2 separate regions of the Homo sapiens genome follow, and region 1 is reported to be linked to region 2. Evidence: microRNA targets listed by miRTarBase, many of them from high-throughput screens and not tested one by one. Region 2 holds a microRNA gene; the other region holds the end of a gene's coding sequence.

Region 1 (3,343 bases), not on the chromosome of region 2:
GTGTTTTGAAGTGGGTGTACCTTGCTTTACCTAATAGATGTGTAAATAGAACTTTTGTAAGTCAAATCCCATTGTCACTTTGATTTAAATTATTCCAGCTGTGATGTGTCTTCATTTTATAGCAGTTTGACACTGGAGCTTTTGAGCTTTTTTACCTCACATCTTTTATCAAATAATATTTACTGCTTTGAAAACAGCAACAGCATTGGCCAGTTCAGTAGGGGAAGCTTGCTTTATTAAGACACTCTGGAGAAAGACGTCAGGGAATCCTTGTATATGTCGTGGGAATCAACTCCTCATTTATCTGTTGCGTAAGTTTAAGTTTTTGTGCATCAGTCGGGTTTTCTATATTTTTTTAACTTAACATTTTTTAATATAACCGATTAAAAAGTAGACAGAACAGTAAAATAAACTCCTGTGTGCCTACCATTCAGCTTCCAGCATTCCTCAACTCCCAGCCCCTCTTCCTTCATGTCTGTTTCCCCTCCACCCTCTGTTATATTGAGGCACGTTCCAGATGTCATTGTGCTCATCCAGTAATGTTGCGGCAGGTGTCTCAGGAGGACTGAAAGGCCTTCACTCCTAGAAACATTAGTGGTAATCCCTTCATGTCATCAACTGTCCACTCAAATTTCCACCTTCCTACAAATATCAGCTCTCCTCCCTGTAAATTATTGGTTGGTAAGCCTCTTAAGTCTTAAAAGGTAGGTTCCCCTCCATCTCTTTTTTATACAAAACCAACTTTTTACTAGGCTTTACTTCTGAATTAAATTCAAGCGGCGGCTATTGACAGCAGCAAGAACCTTTGCTGTCCCACGCGTTCCTCCTGCAGTGTTCTCTGTGATGCTGCTTGGAAGGCTGATGGACTGTTCAGCTGGTGTGATGATTTGGGTAGCTCAGAGCCCTCATGGTTGGGGACCTGACACATGAAGAGCCCTGAATATCACTATGGGTGAGTGTGGCCTTACTTTTTGCTGCTTCACATTAACGGTTTGGCTTTGCCTGCAGCCAGTATTCTGACCTTAATGTCACACTTGCAGATGTCAGCCCAGGCTTGGTACAGGGGCAAACCTTTTCAGGCTTGAGCAGAACCCAGTTAGGTTCCGGGTGTTGACTGTTCTAGAAATGGATTTCCAGGACTACATGAGTGGGTTTGTGTGTTTTCCCCAGAAAATCCAGAACTGATGATAAATAGAAATGTGAAAAACTACTTCAGTTACTTGACTGTTTGTTAGTAAAAAAAAATCAGTAATTCATCCTTGCCCACCTAGGTAGGCGGTTTATCCAACTTCTGGGTCTCTTGCCCATGGAAATCACCATCTTGGATCTGTTGCTCTCCCAGAACAGTATTATGAATAGGGCTAAAGGTCAGAATACCCCCACTGCCCTTATGACAGATGGGAACATCTCCCAAATAAGACAGTCTCAAGCATTCATGTAATAAAATAACTTTATTAGAATCAGGAATTTGTTAAAATAATATCCTTCACATATAGCTAAAGTGCAAATTCTCTTGCTCTGTAGTAGAAGCAAGCACATCTGTCAGACCTCCGTGGTGTGCTTATAAAACCAAGACGAGAAGAGTTTTAAGAAGTACCTCTGGCAGCATAAGAGTACGAAAACACATTTTATAAAGGTTTGAACAATTATCATTTGGAGCCATTTCATATATCGTGTATGTCTTTTCACTTATTTTTCTTAACCTTTCAAAAACTACTCTGTGCTATTTATACAACTGAAGAACTGTATAAACTACTTTAGAGCAGTGGCCTCATTACTGTCAGGAACGGAATTACCAAATCAAAGAGACAACACTGCGTATTCGCCATCACTCACACACTGACAAAGTGCAGTAGTGTTAGACATCATGGGCTCTGTCACTGGGAAAGGGACCCAGTGACTTCCACCTCTCTGACTCTAAATAGCAGCAGTCATATTGGCACCTGTACCATATGATTCAAAGAGAAGATTCTACTTCCATTGGATGACAGCTTGGAAACCCGGCCATATTACATAGAGCACTACATCATTTCACAAGTTGCGAGAAAAATAAGGCCACTCCGAGGCAATCTCTTCTGCCTCCCAGGGGGATGGGACACGGGACAGTGCAAAGACCGTGGAAGATGGCAGTAAGTAGATGAAACTCCAGGACCAAAGGGATGCAGCCTGGCCATGGCTGAAGGTTTTTGCTCCATTCAGTAGAAACTGGTGCTCTAATTCATTATCAAAAATGCTTACTTGGTGTCCACATGGCACTTGTTTTCTCAGGTTAACATCTGCCTACAGAAAACTCAGGCAGAGGGGTGAGGGCAGATGCCTACTAGCATAACACCTGGTTTGCAGCACGATACAGGTGGAATGACAAGCCCAGAGAATTTCAGACGAAAACATCTGGCCTGAGTTGCTACAAATGAAGTGTGAGAGAAACGCGGATACACAAAGAAAACCAAACTGCCCGCCCACCATGTTTCCCCCTCCAACATACAGCTCTTTATGGCTACCCCCTATTCTTAATTAGAAAAATAGTCTCAATATGAAAAAAAAAAAAAAAAAAACAGCTGCTGGCACTAAAGTTTGCAAACTATGGCTCAAAAAGTCTTCCTGCAGGTAAGTAAGGAATGTCGGCATTCATTTTCTCTTCTATGAAGTTTGCTTGGAAGTTAGTCACCACTAATCTAAACCTTGAGAAAGTGAGCTTTCAACCATTTCTCTCAGCTGCGACTTGGGTCTGACTTCCCAGTTGCAGTCACAGAACCTCTCAGCCTGTTTCAGAGAAGCACTTGGAGGAGTTATGTCAGTGGCTCTGGGCCCCGTCCCACACCTCTTGGCCGCTCCTCCACCTTAGTGCAAATTCTGCTCCAGAACCTTTGTTCTGGTCACATGGTGGCACTGTTGCCCCTAAAGCACGGCCACCAGCAAGACACAGCAGACACCATACAATACTGACTAGCTTGCTCCAAAGAAGAAAATAAATAGCTTGGTTGAATTATAAGTTATTTTAGAGACAAGGCTTCATAACTTAGTTTTTTTTTTTTTTTAAAACTAAAACATTTGGAGGTAAAGAATGTTTCTCCTTTTGCTTTAGGAAGTGACTAGGTTTCTAGAAATGCTGTTTCTTTTTTTTTTTCCTACCTCAGGACAGCCTTTGTCACTGAGGATTTCTAGGGTTAGGGCTTCACAGGAAGCGTCTCCTTGAACCCAGAGTGGTTGGGTTGGGCTTCTGGCAGTGCCACCGAGTACTCAGTTGTGGCAAAAAGCAGGGTGTCCAGGGTGGTCTCAGTACACTTGGCGATGAAGCGAATGAAAGGCCTCACGTCGCCCTCGTTGGCAGCTTCCAACACGT
Region 2 (3,404 bases):
CCGCGCCCGGCGGAGATGACCTCCTTTGCTCCCCACAACACATTGGTAAGAGGAGCAGATGCTCCTCTAATTTCCTGTTTATAGGAGAGGAAATTAAGATTCTGTTTACTGATCTTGTCCAAGCTCATTCATTCCACCGGTGTCTATTGTAAATCTCCTGTGGGCTAGGCACTGTGCCAGGCACTGGGTGAGCAACGGATGGCAGACCTAGCGTCTGGCCCTGGCCAGCGCCCCAGAAACCCTGGCACTTGCTTTGCTCCCCAGGTAGCTGGTTCCATGCGTCTCAGGGCCTAGGTCAAATCCCCCACATCCTGTCCTCTGAGTCGGGGATAGTACTTCTGGGGTCAGCTGTGCCTTCACCAGCAAGATGTCCCCTAGAACGGGGGAAGTAGGGAGGGCTTACATCACCACATCCACTTACTTTCTTACTTACTTGTCTAAGCCAAGTTCACATAGAGGGGTGCACGGCTGTGGCTGCTGGGGGTCGCCCTCCCCAGACCCCAACTCAGTAGTAGATGGAAAGAAGCCTTGAGCTTTGGGGGTGGCTTCAGAGGCAAAGAATGGAGCATGCGAGGTGGCGGGTACAGCAGAAATGGCCCCCATCCAGCATTCCAGTTTGGGGGAAAGGTATACGTGTACACATGTGTCGCACGCATGCACACACATTTAATAAAAAGGACTTAAGTGGGATTTCCGAGTAGTATCTCTTGAGTGCAGATTCTTGTCAAGAAAGCAAGATTCTTTCTTGTCAATAAAGATCACAGCAGATACACGGGGTGTCCAGGACAGCAAACCCCAGCTCGGCAGACGGGGCAGGTGTCCCAGCCTCTGAGATGACAGCATTGCGGGGTGTTCTGAGGCAGCGCCTGCTCACCCTTGCAGTCATAGTTCTATTACTTAGACTTGAGATCCCATGATAAGTGCACTCCAGTCCATGGATAAGGAGAGTTTAACCCATGGGGAACGCTAGATCTCAACAATTTTCAACAACGAAGCAACAGAGGCTAGGTGTGGTGGCTCATCCCTGTAATCCCAGTAATTTGGGAGGCTAAGGTGGGCGAATCACTTGAGCCCACGAGTTCGAGACCAGCCTGGGCAACACAGTGGGACCCCCATCTATATGGCAAAAAAGAAAAAAGAAAAGAAAAAGAAAAAAGCAGCAGCAGAGTGAGAGTGAGCAAGCCAGCTGTCATATGAGATTGTCATCTGGTTGTGTGGTTAGATAATGGGCTCAAGGTCACACTCAGCTAATGAGTGGCAGAGGCAGTGGGTACAGCAGAAATGGCCCTCATCCGGCATTCCAGTTTTGGGGGCAAGGTATACGTGTACACATGTGGGTTGCACACATGCACACACATTTAATTAAAAGGACTTCAGTGGGATTTCCGAGTAGCATCCCTTGAGTGCAGATTCCAAGGATGCTACTCAGAAATCCCACTGAAGTCCTTTTTATTTGACACTTTCCCACCTGGCTAAGTTAGAGGGAATACTACAAGAAGTTTTACACTCCTAATAAACTTGACGTACAAGACCTAGGTTTGCATGTCAGTGCCAGTATTTTTTAGGTGTGTCTTATGTCGCTCTCCTAATGCTGGGTGCTAAGGAAGTTGCAGAGGTGAAGGCAACTCAGGCTCTGCCCTCGAGATGCTAATAATATGACTGCAGAGACGCTCGTCCACACGGGAGATTGAGTGCTGCCATCCTCTGTGCCTCAATAATTTCTTTTTGGGTAGCCAGCGTCAGCCAGTGGGGTACAGGGTTTGGGGCTACAGAGCAGCTGTAAACCCGGGTTTCTCCTGGGGCTCACTTTGCAGGGGAGTGCCTGGGCAGAAAGCCCGGGACATGGAACCTGTATGTTGACAGCAATGCAGCCAGATGGGCAGAGGCCAACATCCGTCACCAACGGTCACATTGTGCAGACTGCTGGTTCCCTGCTGAGCTGGGGAGGCTGACAAACCTGAATTCCACCTTGTGCTCCAAAGCTGAGGTTCAGCAAGGGCTCGGGGTGCCCAGTGTGCAACCCTTTGCTGGGAATCCTTTCCTGTCCCAGGTTCTCCTTCCCTCTTGGCCAAGAGCCAGAGCTCCTTGCAGGGACTTCTTCCCACTATAGCTGGACTAGAAATGAAGAAGGGAGAGGAGGAGGAGGAGAAAGAAGGGGGAAGAGGAAGCATATGAAAGGACAGCAGGGAGAAGATGGGATGGAAGGAGAAGGGAAGAGAGGAGGAAGAAGCGGGTGGCGGGAGAAGCAAAGCAGGAAGCCAGGGTCTCGCCTCCTGCCCCAGCCCAGCCCCAGGGTTCTGTCAGCACACAGCCTGGGCCCAGCACAGTGCCCACCACAGCAGGCTGTCCCCTCCGGGTGTCTCTATAGAACATAAAGCGGGGAAGCAGCAACACTGAGGGTGATTATGGTTGAGACAGTTCCCTGTCTTGGGAAGGTCCCCCCTCTCCCCCACGTGCCCTGTGCCCTCTGCCTACCCCACCAGCCCCAGGCCTGGCTGTAAGTGTGACCCTTCCTCAGAGCCAGGCCCTGTGCCCTGCCTTTCTCTCTACTTCCTAAAGCTTCCCCCTTGCCGGGGAGGGAGAGGTGCCCAACAGGTGTGGCCCAGAACACAGAAGAAAAACATGCACACAGAACAAACACATGTTAGATGGGTGAGTGGGGGCCTGGTGAGGTGTGCACAGAACCACAGAGCTTGAGGCGTGAGAGACAAGTCTTTGATACAGGCAGGTCGGGGTGCAGGACTTCCCTCCACACTTTCCAGTCATCAGAGAAAGTCGCTTCACCTTCCAAGGCCTGTTTCTTCATCTGTAAAGTGAGGTACTCTAGCTGAGCTCTCTAGGTGGTTGGAAAGTTTAAGTGAGAAAGTGCATGAAAAGCTCCTACATGTACATACATGTATTCATGGAGCCATGCAGCTTTGCCAGGATCTGTGTGGGGTTCAAGGTCAGCAAAGGATATAGTTAGGCCAGGCTAGGGTGGGGCACTGGGTCACAGAGCCCCTAACCCAGCACTGGAGGAGAGCCAAGCCATGCCAGGACCTTGACTATCAGCTCAGAAGAGACTGCAGAAGCCATGGAGTGTGTCCTTATTATATTTTTCCTTTTTAATTAATTAATTAATTAATTTTGAGAAGGAGTCTCGCTCTGTTGCCCAGGCTGGAGTGCAGTAGTGCGATCTCAGCTCACTGCAACCTCTGCCTCCCAAGTTCAAGTGATTCTCCTCCCTCAGCCTCCCAAGTAGCTGAGATTACAGGCACCCACCACCATGCCTGGCTCATTTTTATATGTTAGTAGAGATGGGTTTTCACCATGTCGGCCACGCTGGTCTCAAACTCCTGACCTCAAATGATCCACTGTAAGTGCTGGGATTACAGGCATGAGCCACCGCACCGGCCTATGTTTTA

The links. Region 2 holds the annotated microRNA hsa-miR-5089-3p (AUGCUACUCGGAAAUCCCACUGA, at 1,374-1,396, opposite strand). A microRNA usually pairs through its seed, bases 2 to 8, with sites in the 3' UTR of a target mRNA and lowers its output. Matches are read on the target gene's strand: a 7mer-m8 pairs with bases 2 to 8, a 7mer-A1 pairs with bases 2 to 7 and ends in A, and an 8mer does both.
Region 1: miRTarBase lists FICD as a target of hsa-miR-5089-3p. Seed matches in the 3' UTR shown: 7mer-A1 at 2,402-2,408.

What each region holds. Positions count from the first base shown.
Region 1 is chr12:108,519,300-108,522,642 of GRCh38, reverse strand. It overlaps FICD (FIC domain protein adenylyltransferase), which reads right to left. Exons shown (of 3, transcript NM_007076.3): 3 at 1,433-3,343. The coding sequence ends at 3,168. It overlaps SART3 (spliceosome associated factor 3, U4/U6 recycling protein), which reads left to right. Exons shown (of 19, transcript NM_014706.4): 19 at 1-429. Among named protein-coding and RNA genes, the nearest start is that of FICD, 5.7 kb to the right of the region's middle.
Region 2 is chr17:46,971,061-46,974,464 of GRCh38, reverse strand. It overlaps MIR5089 (microRNA 5089), which reads right to left and starts at 1,448; the gene lies at 1,365-1,448. It also overlaps a transcript of LRRC37A2 not described here and a transcript of GOSR2 not described here.